Linked DNA regions of Homo sapiens: all the other regions are linked to region 1. The links come from fine-mapping of genetic effects on gene expression. A gene starts in region 1. Each other region holds a variant in brackets. All regions are shown on one strand. Distances are between the middles of the regions.

Region 1 (5,450 bases):
CACGGCCTCAGTCTCCCCATCTGTCAAATGGGGTGAAAGATCCAAAGGGCACAGAAAGTCTGGACCGGCACAGGCAAAGAAAGCCAAGACCTGCTGCACCCCGCATCCACCTGTGCCTGGGCCCACCGTCACCCCAAGGAGAGACAATTCCCTCTCTTCTCCACGTGGCAGTTTGCCCTTCCGGAAGAGCCTGTGTCCCAAACCCCACAGTTCCTGGGACTCGGCATCTGCCACATCTGACTCTGGATGTCGGGGGACCCCCTTCTGTCTTCCTTCTTGTGGTCCAGCCTCCAGTCCCAGGTACCCCGCGAGCCCCTGATGAGGACCTGTGGCTACAGCCCCAGCCGTGGGGACAGGAGCAGGGACCCACTGCTACCCTTGCAGGGCTCTAGCTGGCCCCCACAGCCCCTCACCCTCTGCATTCTCCCTCCACTGGACATCCAGCTCACCTGGGGACCTAGGGACCAAGTCCCTGGAGGAGTCCCCTTCTCAGACGACTCCTGCCAAGCCAGGCAGGGTGGTGAGGGAGCCCAGAGGAGGGGTCATATGACAGGAAACCCAGCTTCCCTCTCCACTACCTCCCTCCTCCCCTCTCACCCCATGGTTTCCTCTGCTTTAAACTGAGGCCAAGCAGGCACTTCCTGTGGGCCCCTGAGATGCAGAGGTGAAGGTGACAGGCGTAGGCCACTTGGCCTCCCAGGGAGCTCTGTGCATGCTGGGCTGCGGGTGGCCCACCCTTCCCCTCTGCACAGGAGTCAGGGCCTGGTCTCCTGCAGCCCTAGGGTCCACTGGTCCGGGTCTGCCGCCTGGCTGCCTCCAGGGATGTCCAGCCTGCAGCTGAGGCCCTCTCTGTTCAACTCCTTCCAGCCTGGATAGGCAGGACTTGACCTCGAGGCCTGAGCTGGGAGCCTGACATGGGTGGGGATGGGAACGGTGGGGGCACAGGGGCCAAACTCTTTATCTGCCGGCCTCACCCTGGAGGGTGTGATAATGACAGGATGGTGGGCTCCCCAGAACCTGGCTGCTGGGTTTCCAGATACTCTTGGTGTTACTGCTGTACTTCCAGCCCCTGTCATTGGCGTTATGGTTGTGCCAAGACCCAGGCCTAGCACCTGGCCGGTAGTAAGTGCTCAGGAATTGGCTCCATTCATGCTCTCCCAGGCTAGATGTTTAAGACATATCTTTGCCAATTCTCTGTCCTTGGGCCCCTGGGAAGCCCGCAGCCCTTCCTCTCTGCTCCCTCTCTACCTGCTATAGGGCCCAGTCATCTCAGGTCTGAATGTTCATAGCTTTTCTGCCTCTCTGCCCACCTCCTTCCTGGTTTCCAGAGTCCTTTCTGTGTGTCAGGCGCAAGCTATGTGCTGGTGCTGGGCACACAGTGGGCTGGGGTAGGAGGGGGCACAGAACCACAGATGTACATGTCAATAGGAAGTGGTAGGTGCTCCACCAGGGTTCAATCTGGGGAGGCTCCCCAGAGGAGGTGGCATTCATGCAAATTCAGTGTGGGTATGCAGGGAGGGGGAAGCAGTGGGAGGAGAGGCAGGGGCTGGGTCTCCATGCCAGGGTGCCACTTGCCAAGAACCAGCTTGGGGTAGCCATCTGAGGACCACACTGGCAGCTCCAAAAGGCCCCAGCCTTGACCCCTGCCTGGTCCTCGCTTTTGCTTGCCTGCTCTCCCCTGCAGCAGTGCCCTCTCCTGCCCTCCTGGGCCCCAGCTCACATTCACCCTGCCTGCTTCATGGCTTCTCCCCGCCAGGAATGACCCTCCCTTCCAAATGGGCTTGGGGTGGGGGGTACAATCTCAAAGGCAGTTTCCTCCATAGAGTTCCCAGGTGGACCACTAAGTCTCCTGCTTTGGCTGGGGGCACCCTAAAGGGTGATTAACTTCTCTCAGCCTCAGTTTCCTCATCTGTGAAATGGGAATATCAGTGCATACCTTCCTGGCTCATGGGGAATAACAGAAAACAGGGCAACGGGTACAGCACCTGGGGACAGTCACCTAAGTGTCAGCGTGTCCTCCTTTTCATCCCCTCCTCTCCACACAGCACACAGGAAGTGAGCCAGAACTCTTGCTAGATAAACAATGAACCCCGCCCAGGTGTCAGGAGTGGGAGATAACCAGGCTCCCCCCGCCGGGGTCGGGGAGAGTCAGCAGGAGGCTTGCGGGGGCGGCGGGGGGGGGGGCGCTGCCCAATCTGGAGTGAGATACTCTGTGTCCCTGGGGCTTTCGGCGGCATCTTACTTGGACGATCCCTAACCATGGGAAGCAGATGAGTCTGGAAATATTGCCCCTTTTTGGAACTTGGGGAAACTGAGCGTCAGAAAAATTGGGGACTTCAACCAGGGGCTGGAATGAATCCAGCCCAGCTCAGACCTCAGGAGGAGGGGTCGGAAGTTGGCAGGGGAGGAAGGCATAGTCGCCGCGGGGCGCCCGGAGGAGGGCGGGGGCGCCGCGGGCCGGGCCGGGTCACGTGATAGCCGAGGCCCGCCCCCCCCCCCCCCGCCCACGTGGGCCGGGAGGTGCGGCTACTCCCCCGGCCCCGGCAGACCTGCGACTGGCCCAGTCGCCCCTGGGGCCCTTTGCCACTCCCTTGGCAAGGAGAGCCGAGACCTCAGTTCCCGGCGGCTCTTGCGGGGCACAGGTGAGCCCTGGCTGCGCGCGCGGCCCCTCCTCCCCGGCGCCTCCCAGGTGAGCGGCCGCGATCCCGGTCCCGGGTCCCGCCAGCCCCAGCTGCTTCTCCTATGCGGGGACAGCGGCAATCCCCCCTGAATTCCTTTCGGCCTCTGGGGCCATTTGGCAGCCGAGTTCCCTCCCCGGGTGCTCCTGGAGCTCCCAGGGCTTGACCCTCCGGCTCGGACAGAGCTGGGAGCGGCAGGGGCGGGGAGGACAGTGCGGGGAGCAAAATCCGCAGCCCCCACCCAGGTCCCCCAGCCGAGCGCCAGGGCACGGGGAGGGGAGGGGAGGGGGTGTGGCCGGGATGGGAAGGGGCGGGGGACAGGGAGGCCGGCTGGACGGGTTCGGTGGCCCCAGAGTTGCAGCCGCTCTGGGCTCTGGGGCCAGGTTGCGGTTCTCCCTGGGTAGCGGCTGCTCCCGGGAAGCTCGCTGCCGGCTGGGGTGGGGGTTCCTGGAAACGGGCGCCACCCAGCCTCTCCCCACCTAGCTCAGGAATGGTGCGCCTGGAAACTCCGCTGGACTTGCCTGGGCCTCGGGGCGGAGTGCTGGGGCGCTGGGTGCCCGAGTCCCCGGGTTCCCTGAGCTTAGAAGGGCCTGTCTGGAGGAAGGGATTCCAGCTCTAGGGACTGGGTGGGGCGTCCTCAGCCCCTCTTTCGGCAGCTGTCCCGTGTTAGGCTGGGTGGGGCCGCCTCGGACCCAGCTCTGGGCTGGTTTTCCCACGTCTTTGCTCCTGCTGGAGGGAGGGGGTGGTGTGGGGCCTGGGCCCGAAGATGGCACCCAGGACACTGAGGGAGGGCGCCGTCCGGTCCTGTGACTGGCACCCCTGCAAGGAGCTGCTCTGTCGGGGCGCCCCCGGGCTTTGCCTGTCCGAGGAAAGCGCCCTTCAACCCGGCCGACTTTGAGCCCTGAGTTCCTGAGGGTGAGCGCAGGAGGAGTCCAGGGCAGAGGCCGGCAGGACTCGCTGGTGGCTGGGAGCTGAGTCCTGGCTCCACTCTCACAGATGAACGGGCCCCGAGCCCAGGGCCCCAGACAAGGCTGCTCTGGTTCCAGTTGTGCCGGGTGACGGCAGAGCCAGGACAAAGGAGGCCTGTTGAGGTCCTGGCCACCCCCAGCCGGCCGCCCTGGGATGATGGAATGCAGGGCAGTGGGTCTTCTGAGAACATGAGGACCTTGGCGCCCTGACGGCGGTGGCATGGAGTGACCTCTGTGTGTGGGGGAGGAGCCCCCTGTGCTGCTTCCGCCTGGGGCTGGTTGGGGGTGAGGGCTCCAGCAGCTAATTTCCTGCTAGAGGAAGTTCTTTGAGGTCACAGGGCAGACGCAGAGAAGGCCTACAGCCTACTCTGACCTTTCTCTCCAAAAAGGAGGTGTCTCTGTGCCAGAACCCTGGGCATGGAGATCCTGAAAGGGGCTGTGTCTACAGGCACCCTACCTCTTCCCCATTTCCCAGGGACTGGCGACATCGAGGAAACAGATGTGGAACTGCAGACCCCACACCCTTCCTTCCTCTCTCCCCTCCCCTGACACTGGAGGGGGCCCCCCATTCCATTCTGGCATGAGGCTTATTCGGTGCCTCACCATTTATGTACCTGGGGTGATAGGGGGGTGGGCGGGACTGTCTGGGCTGTGAGTGGCACCTCCTGTGGTTCCCCCAGGAATGGGTGGTGTGGACAGCTGCCAGGCGTTGAAGACCACCCCTGGCTCTGTGCCCCTGTCTCATCAGATGGGGGCTCCGGAGGTGGCGCCCAGGCTCTGAGCTACCCTAGGTCTGCAGACTAGCGGGCATTGGCCAGAGACATGGCCCAGCCACTGGCCTTCATCCTCGATGTCCCTGAGACCCCAGGGGACCAGGGGTAAGCGCTCTGGGGCTGGGGGCTGGAGGCTGGAATGTTCCACCCCCCACGGAGAGGTCACCTGAGCAGGGGCTGCTGGAAGGAGAGAGGTGGCTGGAGCCTGACCCCCCCGCCAACCCCCTCTGCAGCCAGGGCCCCAGCCCCTATGATGAAAGCGAAGTGCACGACTCCTTCCAGCAGCTCATCCAGGAGCAGAGCCAGTGCACGGCCCAGGAGGGGCTGGAGCTGCAGCAGAGAGAGCGGGAGGTGACAGGTGAGCTCAGGCCTGGATGCTGGGTGGTGTGGACCAAGACTTGGGTGCCCCAGCCCCTCAGGACGGGCCTCCCAGCTCTGCAGGCCTGGGATGGGGTGGGAGATACTGTGGCCAATGGCATCTCCAGGACCCCTGGTGAGTCTTTCTTGCTTTGTAGGAAGTAGCCAGCAGACACTCTGGCGGCCCGAGGGCACCCAGAGCACGGCCACACTCCGCATCCTGGCCAGCATGCCCAGCCGCACCATTGGTGAGTGGGACCCTCAGCCTCGGCCTCGGCCCCGGCCCCGAGTTGACCCCAGTCCCTGGGGCTGGGCTGGGCTTCCTGCCAGGCATCTCCCTGGGTAGTGGCTGCTCCCGTAGCTCAGAGCCAGGCCCAGGGCGGGCTCCTAGCCCATCCCATCTGCTGCCTGGGGGCCCAGCACAGCCCCATGTGGCCCTCGCTGGGCTCCAAAAATGACTCCAGAGTCATCACGGGGTAAAAATAGGCTTTCGGAATGCAGTGGTGCCTGAAGTCTTTGTTGAAAGGATTTTCCTGGGTCCTGGGAAGGGGTGAGGGACGCAGAGGCCTGTGGTGAGCCCATCCTGAGGGGAGGGAGGCCTGGCCCTGCCCGGCCCGGCCCTGCCCAGCTGCCTCCATAGGCCGCAGCCGAGGTGCCATCATCTCCCAGTACTA
Region 2 (7,043 bases), 59 kb after region 1:
CTTCCCTCAAAACATAACGGGAAAATATGAGAAAAGCCAACATGCTTCAAATATGGCATTGGCGATTCACCTCCAAAGTCCGCTAATCCCAAGAGGCTCCCTCTGTGGTTCCAGCTTGTTGTGTGGTTGCCCCTTCACTGTGGCCTGGTCCTGTCTACCCAGGACATATTAACCATTAAACCATGACTACAATCAAATGCTTCTGGAAAGTAAAACTTCACAGCTGGGTACCTTTTTAAAAAGGATGTTGTATGACTTACTCATGGCCTGATCAAGATTCATATTGTTACTCTTCAAGGCCTCCTCAGCTGGCTCTCTCTGTGTAGGAAAACAGAGTTTTCATTAGTGCACATTAATTAACAAAAGGAAAGGTTACAAACAATTTAATCACTATCAACTTAAAGACATAGTTATTAGGTTTTGGAACTGGAAATACATTTCTTCACTGTTGAGGTTAGAGACAATGTCTTTTGAATTAAAAATACTTGTAATAAGAAAATGTACTGACTTGATTTTCAAAGTAAAGCCCTTGTATTTAACACTTTGGAAACAAAATGCAGAGTGGCAGTAAAACCTTGTAAGTACTCCTAAAATCATTTTCATTTTTTTAAAATGTAACTATTAGTATTATTTTTGTAGAGATATGTTCTCTCCATGTTGCCCTGGCTGGTCTCAAACTCCTGGGCTCAAGTGGTTCTCCTGCCTTGGGCTCCCAAAGTGTTGGGATTACAGGTGTGAGCCACTGTGTCTGGTCCTAAAATCATTCTGTACAACACTGAGTAGCAATGATTCCATAAAGGTGCAATCTATGCCAAGACAGCAGGGCCACAGACAAGGACACCTGCCATGAGGACAGGATGCTCTCCTAGGACAGGATTCCTGTCCCAGTGAGGCCCATCTCCATGTCTCTCTCTAGTCCCAGCAACTATGTCAGTCACTGTCGGAGTGCAGAGCTGCATTTTTCGCTTCATCAACTCTAGGCTCCACCATCAACAACTTTTCTCTAAGAAACAGAAAAACAAAACAAGTAGATTCATTTTGATAATTTATGACTGGAACACAGTAATCTCAGGGGATGACTGAAGCCGCTAGGGTGCCATGATAACTGAGACAGTATAAATCAGGACACGCTGAAGCCACCGTCAACCTCTTGCCCACTCACACAGGCAGAGCCTGGGCCACCAACACAATGCCCTGCCCAATACAGAGGGCCTGTGCCCAGTGTGAAGGATGGGGTTCCTCCGCTACATGGAGGCCATTCTGGACTCATTCTTTTAGAAGCATCTACGGTAACTGAAAGATAAACACTAATTTGAATAAGGATTTTGAAAGAAGTCCCATGAAGCGAATACATGGCGAATATGGGCGACATCCCTTGCCATCTGAACTGCCATCCAATCTCAGGAATTGAACAGACTGTGGTATTTTCAGGGGAACGCCCTACAATTATGAATTCTCCCTACGTATGACTGGAAACTTAGGAACTAAGTAGGTCTGGTTAGGATACTTTTTCTGGATATGAAACCTTAGTACTTTACATCAAGTTTTCTTTTGTGATCTCTGTCAATATACTCTATACACTAATGAAATTCACGTTTAATTATAAATTAAAAGTAAACATAAAACTGTATAAACCAATGAAAATTAAAAATCACACAGCATTTTCCGGCTGGGCGTAGTGACTCATGCCTGTAATCCCAGCACTTTGGGAGGCCGAGGCGGGCAGATCGCTTGAGCCCAGGTGTTCGAGACCAGCCTGGCCAACACAGTGAAGCCTCGTCTCTACCAAAAATACAAAAATTAGCCGAGCATGGTGGCTCACGCCTGTAGTCCCAGCTCTACTCGGGAGGCCGAGACAGGAGGACTGCTTGATCACACCACTGCACTGCAGCCTAGGTGCCAGAGCAAGACCCTGTCTCCAAAAAAAAAAAGCATTTTCTATTCTAGGAAAAGGCTCTCACACCCTTTTTGATAGAAATTGTGTGGGTCTTTGCTGTAGTTCAAAGCAATGATCTCTAACCCAAACTACCCAGGTAAAAGGGAGATTTAAGAGTTAGATGATGTCAATATCTCATTCCTCAAACAATCTTGGTGTCTTCTGACACACATAACAAACATGGAGAGGAAACAATGAGGGCATTTCATTTTGGGAAGCATGGTGGGTAGCAGTAAACTACGACGCCAGTTACCGGGAAGCCCATGTCTGTGAGTTGTTTGATCAGCCGGCTCATGATCCAGGCCTCATCCTGCTTGCCAGACGTCTTCATGCCCTTGAACAAAGTGTGGGAAAGGGGGAAGTCCATGAGCTACATTTTAATGCATTTCTACCAGAAATGGGAGACAGCCTAAATTCAGGGTCATTTAAAAGTCACAGGATCTTTTTGTATTAACATTGAATAATGCTGTATTCCAGAAACTCCCTAACAGTATTTCGTGGCTACTGCTACGGAAAGCATCAAGGTACATTTGCAGGTTGGTATATATGTGCAATTTATGAACTTAAAGCAAGATAATTATTTCTCTTTCCCAGATAATTAATTTAGTTTATCACAAATATAGACTACTTTTACTATCCAATAATCCTAAGCGCTCCCTTGAACACAGCCCTATGTGAAGTTTACTAAAAATTACACTTTTTGCCTTTTCTAAGCTTTATTCTGAAAAATGATAAAATGAGGGGGTTTATTCCAATGAGTAAAGAGGCAGCAAGAAGAAAGGATGAAACAACCTGTTAATTTTATTAACTATTTGTTACTTATAGCTCATAGGGTAGAGAAAAGGAATAAGGAGGAAAATGTCAGTGAAGGAGAGGATGAGGAAAAAGGTCAGCTACAGAAAGAGCAGTGGGGGTGGGGGAGGGC[T/A]CGGCACCACAGAAGAGCCAGGAGGCTTCTCAATAACTTCCCTCTGAGCCTATAAATGCAAAGGTTCTAATGATGCATTATTACAATATGAAAAAAATTCCCTTCCAAAAATATTCTTCATAGTGTTTTTCACAATTGAGCCTGCCACAGCTATATCATGGAGCATATGGAGCTCTATAAACAGGCTTTCTTTCCTCAAGGAACTAGCTTATTTTGGGGCTATTTCAATCATTACTATGCTGCCAGAGCCAGATTAGTCAAGATTTTAATTTACCAATTTGCTATTTTTGGTCCCATCATTAACTGGATTATTTGCCAGCCCAACTGTAAAAAGGATTCTTTTTGATGTCTGTAATCACTTCTACTCCTCATGAGCGGAGAGCTCTGATTTTAGTTTCTGGTTTCTGCTGATTATTAACTGAATGCTTTTATAAACTATATTTTTTTGAACATGAATACATTCACACGATTCAAAAGTATAAACAAGGTATAAAGAAAGTTTTCATCTCATGCCACCCCATTTGCTTAGTTCCTGTTCTCTCGAAGAGGCACTACTCATAGCAGTTTCTTATTTGCCCTTCCAGAGAATTTAGAACATTCTGTAGAAGCTGATACACTACGTGTGCATGCATGCATACACACACTCACATACACACACACACGTTTTCTTCCTCCTACCCCACAAAATAGGGTGTGTGCTGTACATGTTTTTCTGCACCTTGCTTTTAATTTAACAATGTACTTTAGTGATCTTTTCATATCAATACATAGATAGAATTTCCTTTTAGTTCTGTATAATGTAGAAGTGACATAATTAACTTGTTACTCCATCAATGTACACATAAATTATTGTTATCTTTTTACTACAAAAATGCTGCAATACAAAACTGTATAAATGCCACAAAGTGAGACTCTGTCTCTACAGAAAAAATAAAAAATAAAATTAGTTGGGCAGAGTGGCATGCACCTGTAGACCCAGCTACTCAGGAGGCTGAGGCAGGAGGACAATTCGAGCCCAGGAGTTCAAGGTTGTACTCCAGCCCCTAAGGTGACACAGCAAGACTCTGTCTCTAAAAAAATTTTTTTAAATAAAAAAATCAAAACGCTGGCTTTCTGTGGGTCTGAGAGATGAAAAATGGCAGGTGTCTCTGAGTGCTGTCTGGAACTGCACTGCCTTCCTGTGAGTCCGTGTCTAGGAGCCACTGGTGCTCCTTCTCTGTGGACCAGCTACTCTTCACATTCTGTGCTCCTTTTTCTACTGGGTTTCTGGCTGATTTTTTTTTTAAATCAGTTTCTAGGACTTTATGTATCAGGGGATTGGCCCTCTCTATGATATGAGTTATAAACATATTTTTCCAGTTTGCTATTTTTCTTTTGACTTTGATTATGGTATTTTCTGTCATGTACAGTTTTTACATTTATCTATTGACACAAAAAAATTTTATTTTATGGCTTTTAGATTTTGGTCATAGTTAGGCCTCTCTGAGTCCAAAATTGTTTTTAATGTTCTTTCATGTTTTCATATTTTTAATATTTAAGTTTGTGACCTACTTGAAATTCAGTCATGCTGAATGTGGACTGAATTGGGCAGTCATCTAGAAAAAAATGAGATACACGTCTCATGTAGCTCATGTATATATGAGATGTGTATCTCAGTGTTTTCTAGATGACCGCACATTTGTGTCTTTTTTTTTGAGAGGGAGTCTCGCTCTGTCGCCCAGGCTGGAGTGCAGTGAGGCGATCTTGGCTCACTGCAACTGCAACCTCCGCCTCCCAGGTTTAAGCAATTCTCTTGCCTCAGCCTCCCGAGTAGCTGGGATTACAGGCACCCACCACCACGCCCAGCTAGTTTTTGTATTTTTAGTAGAGATGGGGTTTCACCATGTTGGCCAGGCTGGACTTGAACTCCTGACCTCAAGTGATCCACCCACTTTGGCCTCCCAAAGTGCCGGGATTACAGGTGTGAGCCACTGTGCCCTGCCTGCCCATCTGTTTTAAGACTTCTTAACCATCTGTCTCAAACTTTTTGGTCTCAGGACCCTATAATACTCTCTTAGAGACTGAAGATCCCAAAGAACTTCTGTTGACATGAGTTGTGTCTATTGCTATTTACTGTATTAGAAATTAAAACTGAGAAAATTTAAAAATATAATTTTGCTTAAAAATAATAGTCACTACACATTAACCTAACATTTTAAAATAAAAAGTAATTAATTTTTCATGAGAAGGGTGGCACTGTTTTGCCTTTTGGCAAATCTCTATGTCTGGCTTAAGAGAAATGGCTGGATTTTCATGCCTGTTTCTGCACATTCTCTGCTACAATAAAGTTCTCTGGACACCTCTACCCTATACCGGAGAGAGACTTCAAATGAAAAAGACAGTCTTAGTACTGGCATGATAATAGTTGTGACCTTGCTTACTCCCCTGAAAGGGTCTCTGGGACCTCCAAGGGTCCTAAGACTACTTTGAGAACCTCAGGTCTATCTTTTTGTCTGATTAACTGGATACTGAATGTGTCTGAAGTACCTTTGGTTTTCAGGGTGTACCGTCGTTAAGAGTGTTGTACTTACCTTTTGAAGTCCTTTTTTGGGGGCGTTCCCCCAGGAGCTGCAGGAGGAGGTGCTTTCTTGGGAAGCAGCATTATTCCACACGTCCCCTTCTTCATCCTCCCACTGGCTGGTACTGAGGTTCATTTCATCCCCACCACTGCCCCAGCCTTCTTGCATAGATTTTGAAGCTAGAAACAGAGCAAACATGAACTTATCAAATTCATGTCCCTAACGCAGACAATGCTTCCACTGTAACATATAATTTAGGGGTCGTGGGACAAATGATGCATTGTAATCTACCTTTTTATGCCTTCATTTCTCCCAGATCTCAGAATTGAATTTCTCTTGCTACATATGTAAATAAACATGTATATGTATATAATTTTTCCTTCAAACATCAGCTATTTGTACTCTGTGCTGTTCTAAACTTCCTTAACCAACTACACATCATTCTGAAACATAAACATGCTAAGAACAAATCCTGGGGCCACCAGGGAAGGTGGCAATCTCTACATGGTATGAAAAGGCTACAGAAATGTAGATTCCTAAAACATTTCATTGTCCTGTGTGGTTTTTAAAATTTGTAGGTTTTTTTCTTTTTTTTGAAACAGGGTCTTGCTCTGTTGCCCGGATTATAGTAGTGCAATCACAGCTCACTGCAACCTCAAACTCCTGGGCTCAAGTGATCCTCCTGCCTCAGCCTCTCAAGTAGCTAGGACTACAGGCATGTGCCACCACATCCAGCTAATTTTTTTTTTCTTTTTAATAGAGATGGGGTCTCACTATGTTGCCCAGGCTGGTCTCAAACTCTTGGGCTCAAGTAGTCCTCCTGCCTCGGCATCCCAAAGTGTTGGGATTACAGTCATGAGCCATCACAAGTGGCAGGAAAATTTGTATATGGGATGCTTCATAAATCTGTATCTCATCCTTGCATAGGAACCACGCGAATCTTCTCTGTATTGTTCCAATTTTAGTACATGTGCTGCTGAAATGAGCATCTCTGTCTGATTCTTAATCACTGCTTGATCCAAACCTATGAGCATTAAGTCACACAGACCAGAGCTTCTCAAACCTGTCCACTCGTGACAGTCAGCTGGATCATGTGAAGTCTGGCAGGCCTGAGGTTGGGCCCGACAGGCTGCATTTCTAACAAGCCCGCAGGAGATGCTTACAGACTAGCAGGATGGAGGCCTTAGGCAGATGGAGCTACAAAGTGACTATCGAGTTTCCACTTCAGATATTGTTTTTTCCTCCTATCTTAAAATACAAAGTGATTTTCGGTATCAAAATTACCCCAAATTTTCACTTCTTGGAAGAATATGAAGAAGGGCAAAGACTAGGTAAGAGCACAGTTAGCTGGGTCTTCAATGAAGATACAAGGCTGATAAACATATGGAATAGGCACATAACTGTGCCTCCAAGGACAAATTCTCAAAATAGAATGCTCAAAATGGCGCATGAATCTAAATACTCACAAGTTCCCTTATCCTTTAGGTTTGTAAAAAAAAGTAATATAAATGGAATACTTTGAGCAGAGTGGTGGCTATATGGAACATACTATCGAGTATTAGCAAAACAAAAAACAAAAAAAACCAAAAAAAACCACAAAGTACAAAACCAATAAAGTTGCATT
Region 3 (7,043 bases), 880 kb after region 1:
GAGGCAAGACCGGAAAGTGTTCTCACTGTATTGCATTCCTGGGCCCGAGGAGCTCTTTCACAGGGCTGAGCCGTGGATGAAGTGCTTATGAATTGGCACAAAGAGGGGGCCGGGTCTGATTCATCTGTGTGCCCCATCCGCACCCCATACAGGATCGGGCACAGAAAGACATTTCCCATGGTTACAGGAGGAAATAGAGTAGGATGGGGAAGAACTGGCCTCTGAGGTCCCTCTTTCTTCCCACCCTATCCCCCAAAAGTTGCCTTCCTGGACCCCCCTGCCCCCGTGTCCCCCACATAGGTGTTTACACGCTGATCAGTGGTGGAGATTCCAGGCAACAAGGAGCTGGGAGGCTGAACAGGTACTGGAAGCCAGTGGCCAATGCCCCTGGAACAGAGCCCTGTGGCCGAGCTGCGAGCTCTGTTAGGTCTCCAGCTTATGGCTCCCATGAAGGGCCTTGCCCTCCTGCCAGGGGCAGTATAACAATCTACCCAAATGCCCATGGACCCCTCTGGAGGCTTGTAAAGCCCCAAACTCCTGTTTGCTGCGAACTTACCAGGCTCGGCCACAGGGGCAGGGAGAACGTCCGGCCGGAGCGCAGGGAAGGAAGGTTGGGTCTCTGGAGTCCGCGGGGGTGGGGGGCTCCCTCCCAGGTCTCGCCCTTCAGCTTTTCTGTTTCCCACTTCAGGGCCACACGTCCGTCGTTCCGAACCTCCAATCACATTGGTAACCAACATCATGGGTTCCCAGTGGCCCCGTTGTGGGGTCTTTTCCTCCTGGGGTCTCTGCTGGGGCTTCTCCCTCTCCTCGCTTCCGGCCATCCCCTTCGCTGGGGAGCAGTTGGCTGCTTTTCCGCAGCCAGTGCCTTTCGCGGGTCCAGTTGATCCTATGAGATGCACCATGGAGGGGTAAATGCAGCCTGGGCTCCTCCAGAAGCCAGGGTGCCCACTGCTGCGTGGAGATGCTACCAAGCGTTCAAGTTGTGCGGGTTGTGGAAGAAGCTGGTGAGCCCTGGAGTCAGGCCTGGAACTCAGAACCGAGCGTGAGTCAATCCCTCTGCTTTTCACCGGGAAAAATCTTCCTGGCTCGAGGTCCTGGGTTCATCACTTTCTTCAAACAAACACTCAATCAAACACTTAGAGACTTCCGGTCTGGGTAAGATGGCCTAAACCCGACCCTCCCTGTTCCTGTCTGCTAAGCCCTGGAAAGAATGTAAGAGGCAACCCTAAGAGGGCCCTGAGGTGGAAGGAGCAGGAGAGCTGGTAAAGGACCCCAAGGCTGGGTCAGGAATATTTATCAACAGGGCATTATGACACCCCTCACCCCCACCCAATACAGGACCCGCCCAGGCGTGCATTTCCCAACTCCCGACCTAGCAACAGAAGGCAGCCAAGTAGGCTCCTTTCTCTCCTAGATTAAAGGCAAGTCGCCCCAACACACTAGGCAAGGCTGGGCCCGATTGCTCACAGCTGTAATCCCAGCGCTTCAAGACAGGAGGATCTCTTGAGACCAGGGATTTGATACCAGCCTGGGTAACCCAGCAGACCCTGTCTCTACAAAGAAAACTTAAAAATTAGCCGGGCATAGTGGCAGCTGCGTACAGTCCCAGCTACTCAGGAGGCTGAGGTGGGAGGATCACTTGAGCCCAGGAGATCAAGGCTGCAGTGAGTTATGATCGCACCACTGTACTCCAGCGTGGGCAACAGAGTAAGACCTGTAAAAAAAAAAAAAAAAAAAGCTGGGCACAGTGGCTCACACCTGTGATCCCAGCACTTTGGGAGGCTGAGGCGGGTGGATCACCCGAAGTCAGGAGTTTGAGACCAGCCTGGCCAACATGGTGAAACCCCGCCTCTACTAAAAATACAAAAATTAGCCGGGCGTGGTGGTGGGTGCCTGTGGTCCCAGCTACTCAGGAGGCTGAGGCAGGAGAATCGCTTGAACCTGGGAGGCAGAGGTTGCAATGAGCCAAGGTTGCGCCATTGCACTCCAGGCTGGGCGACAAACTCAAAAAAAAAAAAAAAAAAATGAACAACAAAAAACCCACCAAGCAAGCCAGGCAGAACCACCAAAGGGGTTGGCCCAGCACCCTCCTGCTAATTATTGGCCAGGGTTAACCCTTTCCTCCTCACTGGACCTGAAATTCCACTCCCCCACCCAAAATCATGGCACAGCAGAGAGAGGGGGAGACGTTGATGGCAGGGAGAAAGCCCACCACAAGCAGAAGGCCTGTCTGTCCCTGTGAGCGGGAGACTCCCTTCTCCCACCTGGAGGCAATGAATGTCCAGCCTGGGAAAGCTCCTTCTGCCTCCTTAAGCAGCACCACACAAGCCGAGCTGACCTCTATAGCACGGCAGAGGCTCTGCAAATCAGATTTTCATTGGAACCACAGCCCCCAAAAGTAGCCCAAGACCTGGGTGCTAAACCTAAGCAGGGCCGCTGCTACCAAAGTAAAAAATGCAAACAGGACCTGAAGTCTCCTCACCTAATAGCCACAATGTCCAGGATATGGTGAAATTCACTCATCCCACCAAGAACTACGAAAATCACAATGTGAGTGGGAAGACCGTCAACTGAACCCTGAGATGAATCAGACGTTGGAGTTACGTGCCCAGGATTTTACTCTTTTTTTTTTTTTTTTGGAGACAGTCTTACTCTGTCACACAGGCTGGAGTGCAGTGGTGCGATCTCAGCTCACTGCAACCTCTGCTTCCTGAGTTCAAGCGATTCTCCTGCCTCAGCCTCCTGAGTAGCTGGGATTACAGGCATGTGCCATCATACCCGGCTAATTTTTGTATTTTTAATAAAGACAGGCTTTCACTATGTTAGCCAGGCTGGCCTCGAACTGCTGACCTCAAGTGATCCACCCTCCTCGGCCTCCCAAAGTGCTGGAATTACAGGCATGAGCCACTGCGCCCAGCCATGTGACCAGGATTTTAAAGCAACCATCAAAAAAAACACATAAAAATAAAAAATTCAACAAGCAATTGCAAATTCTCTTGAAACAAATGAAAATATAGAAATTCTCAGCAAAGAAATAGTGGGTATTTAGAAAGAACCAAATGGAAATTACAGAACTGAAAAATGTCATTGCAGAAATTTTAAAAACTCCCTGATGGGCTCAGTTGTAGAGTGGAAATGACAGACGACAGAATCAGTGAATCTGGGGACAGATCAATCCAAAGTACCCAGTCTGAACCACAGGGAGAAAATAGACGGATAAGAAATAAACAGAACGTCCACATCCAATGGGACCATAACAAACAAATCTGACACTCACATCATAGGGGCTAAGGAGGAGAAGAGAGTGAGGCTGAAGGAGTATTTGAAGAAATAATGGCTGAAAACTTTCCAAATCTGGTAAAAGACATAAGCTTACAGATTCAGGAAACTGAACTTCAAACAGAAGAAGCCAAAGAAATCTACACTGAGATATCATCATTAAACTTCTGAAAACTAAAGACAAAAAA[T/AT]CTCCTCAGAACAGCCAGAGAAACAACACATTACCTATAGGGACACCAGTTCAAATTATCTCATCTGAAACTACGGAGGCCAGAAGTGATGTGGATGACTTGAGGTCAGGAGTTTGAGACCAGCCTGGCCAACATGGTGAAACCCCGACTCTACTAAAGTTACAAAAAATAGCCGGGTGTGGTGGCACATGCCTGTAGTCCCAACTACTTGGGAGGCTGAAGCACGAGAATTGCTTGAGCCTAGGGATTGTGGGGCCAAGACTGCTGATGGGGGGTGGGGTTGAGCTGTGATGGTGCCACTGCACTTCAGCCTGGGTGACAGAGTGAGACTCTGTTTCAAAAAAAAAAAAAAAAAATCAGTAACAGAAAGACTACAGGAAAATCTCTAAACACTTGGAAATTGAACAGTACACCTCTAAATATCCACGTCAATGAGGAAGTCTCAAAGAAAATTAAGAAATCTATAAAACTGAATGAGAATTAAAGGACAGCATACCAAAATATGTGGGATGCATCTGAGGCAATGCTGAGAAAGAAATTTTCTTATTTTTATTTTTTATTATTTTTTTGAGACAGAGTCTTGCTCTGTTGCCCAGGCTGGAGTGTAGTGGTGTGATCACAGCCCACTGCAGCCTCGACTCCTCAGGCTCAAGCAATCCTCCCACCTCAGCCTCCTGATGAACTGGGACTACAGGAACATGCCCCCCACACCTAGCTTGCTTTTTTTCTTTTTTTGCTAGAAACAGGGTTTTGAGGTTGCTCAGTCTTGAACTCCTGGCCTCAAGTGATCTTCCCGCTTCAGCCTCCTAAAGTACTGGGATTACCTGTGTGAACCACTGTGCCCAGCCGAGAGGGATACTTATAGCACTAAATACTTACATTAAGAATAAAGATATCTCTAGTTTCAGCTACTTGAGAGGCTGAGGCAGTAGGATCGCTTGAGACCAGTCATTTGAGGTTGCCGTATGCTGTGCTGGCACCTGTAAGTAGCCACCATACTCCAGCCGGAGCAATGTGGTGAGGCCCTGACTCTAAAAATAATAAATAAATAAATATAAATTAAAAGAGAGCAGTCTCGTCTGGGCGTGGTGGCTCACGCCTGTAATTCCAGCACTTTGGAAGGCTGAGGCGGGTGGATCACGTGAGGTCAGGAGTTTGAGACCAGCCTGACCAACATGGTGAAACCCCATCTCTACTAAAAATACAAAAATTAGCTGGGTGTGGTGGCGGGCGCCTGTAATCCCAGCTACTTGGGAGGCTGAGGCAGGAGAATCACTTGAACCCGGGAGGTGGAGGTTGCAGTGAGCCAGGATTGCGCCGCTGCACTCCAGCCTGGGTGACAGAGTCAGGTCCATCTCAAAAAAGAAAAAAAAAATTAGGCAGGCGTGGTGGTGCATGCCTGTAATCCCAGCTACTTGGGGGGCTGAGGCAGAAGAATCGCTTGAACCTGGGAGGCAGAGGTTGCAGTGAGCCGAGATCCGTACCATTGCACTCCAGCCTGCGGGATAAGAGCGAAACTCTGTCTCAAAAAAAAAAAAAAAGAGAGAGACAGAAGTCTCAAATTAACCATTTATTGAGGTGGGTTCTGTGCTTGGTGCTGAGATGATAATTGTGAAGGCCCAGTCTCTTCCAAAGGGGCTTACAGCTTGAATGGGCACAGAAACAAGGAAAGGAGGAATTCACACACAGTGTGGTCAGGGGTGTAATTCACACACAGTGTGGTCAGGGGTGTAATTCATACACAGTGTGGTCAGGGGTGTAATTCACACACAGTGTGGTCAGGGGTGTAATTCACACACAGTGTGGTCAGGGGTGTAATTCACACACAGTGTGGTCAGGGGTGTTGGTTGAGGGTAGCCTAGGGCTAGGGTGTTGGCTTAGCCAGGTCAATACAGGCAGATGGCATCAAATCCAGGCTTGGGGAGCAAAGAAGTCTTCTCAGAGGAGAAGCTGCACCCTGATAGGTGAGGTGGGCCCCCCAAAATGGGGAGAGGGCTGTCTGGGCTCAGAAAGCTGGGACACGCAAAGGCGCTGAGGGGAAGAGGACATGGCCCATCAGGGCACTGTCAGTGTGGCCAGACAGAGCAGGCAAGGCGGGGGAGACCCTGGGAGACAGAGCCAGACCCAGAACGAGGGGCCCCTTCCCAGACTCTGAAGGAGTTTGGGCTTGATCCTAAGACAATTCAGAGCCAATGAAGAGTTTCAAGATGACAAGGTCTCATCTGTGTTTTGGGAAGACCCTTCCAACTGTTGGAGGAGGGCTGCTCCTAGATGCAGGGGGGCCAGGAGGGAGGGACCCAGTGGGCCATTTGGGAGAGGTGGACGCTGGACAGGGCAGGGGCGGCAGGCAGAGAAGAGGAGTCCACAGCTCCTGGGCGAAGATCGCCAGGATTTGAAGATGAGATCTGGAAACGACGGCCCGGGGACATCCAAGCTGAGCCTGGGCCAGTGGGTAAATAAGCGGTCATTCACTGAGTAGGGAACATGAAGGAACAGATGGAGATGCTTTGTGTTGCCTTTGGTGGGGACAGAGCAAAAATACAATGATGGCATTTCCATCTGGGAGATGGCGCATCAGGGGCCAGGAGGCACGTCTTAGCCGGGACATGGAGGTGACCTAATTGACATGTGGCTGTGGCTGCAATCGGGGATTTGGGAGAAACGCCACTGAGATGAATCAGAGGAGAAGGGCCAGAGACCAGGTCCTGGACGTGGGGATGTCCACATTTAAGGGGAAAACAGAAAAAGAAGGGTTGGGGAGAAGTCAAAGAGCCGGGAAGAAATCCAGGCGAGAACTGCACTCGTAACCAAGGGACAGAAGGTTTAGAGAGTGACATGCCAGGGAGAGCTGCAGCTCGCTGGGTTGGCAGAAGGGGCAGATGGTGAGTAGGGGGAGGTCATGGAGGAGGGATGAGGTGGAGGGGCAGGGAGTTCACGAGAGAGAGGAGGTGGACCTGGGAGAGGAGACAACTCCTTGGTTTTAGAGCAAAGAACCTTGAGTTAACATATTTACGCCAGGAGAGAGAATGTCTAGGCTTGAAGGGGGAGGTGAGGGCTGATGGCACAAGGCTTCCAGCAGAGGATGGACAGCTCGGCCTGGAATAGAGAGTGAGACACAGTTTCCACGGAGGTGGAGAAGGGGACACAGTCCCTCGTCTGTGATTAGATGCCAACGGAATCCAGGCACAAGGGAAAGAGGGGCAGCACCTGCCCTCTGGAGGCTTCCAGTCTAGCGGAAGCTGATGGGTGGGAGGCAGGTGCAGAAAGATGGGGATCAGGCCTGGGAAGCAGTGCAGGAGCCAGGAACACCCAGCCCTCTTCCTGTCCCTGGGGTGCCCAGCACCAGGGAGCATGAGTGGTGACCAGAGGTGCAGGTGGGTCCCCCCTGGTTAGTGGGAGAGTGGGGGAGGGCAGATGGAGTGGGGAGTCTTGAGTGACAAGCCAGCGCCCCTGGCACCCATCTCTGAGCATGGCAGACATGGTCCTGCCTCCACGGTGCTCCAGGTCCAGCTCAGCATCTTCCTTGGAGGGGCACCCCAGAGGGGCCCCCAGCCACATCCTGTAAAATATGGGCTT

Evidence for each region.
Region 2: its variant is fine-mapped to the expression of TMC6 in whole blood (INTERVAL, PIP above 0.99).
Region 3: its variant is fine-mapped to the expression of TMC6 in left ventricle (GTEx, PIP 0.99).

Annotation. Positions count from the first base shown.
Region 1 is chr17:78,125,851-78,131,300 of GRCh38, reverse strand. It overlaps TMC6 (transmembrane channel like 6), which reads left to right and starts at 2,546. Exons shown (of 20, transcript NM_001127198.5): 1 at 2,546-2,689; 2 at 4,395-4,524; 3 at 4,653-4,777; 4 at 4,935-5,024; 5 at 5,417-5,450. The coding sequence starts at 4,469. It overlaps TMC8 (transmembrane channel like 8), which reads right to left and starts at 530. Exons shown (of 16, transcript NM_152468.5): 1 at 450-530; 2 at 1-20. RefSeq lists enhancers at 323-452, 3,663-3,912 and silencers at 2,453-2,982, 4,253-4,332, 4,383-4,432.
Region 2 is chr17:78,066,312-78,073,354 of GRCh38, reverse strand. TNRC6C (trinucleotide repeat containing adaptor 6C) reads right to left here. Exons shown (of 23, transcript NM_001142640.2): 7 at 5,432-5,598; 8 at 2,190-2,270; 9 at 261-318. It also overlaps the pseudogene UBE2V2P2 and the pseudogene RNU6-625P. Among named protein-coding and RNA genes, the nearest start is that of TMC6, 59 kb to the left of the region's middle. The variant T/A (reference allele first, on the strand shown) is at 2,862.
Region 3 is chr17:77,248,035-77,255,077 of GRCh38, reverse strand. It overlaps LACAT1 (lung adenocarcinoma-associated transcript 1), which reads right to left and starts at 1,264. Exons shown (of 3, transcript NR_188630.1): 1 at 557-1,264. RefSeq lists an enhancer at 1-952. The variant T/AT (reference allele first, on the strand shown) is at 3,468.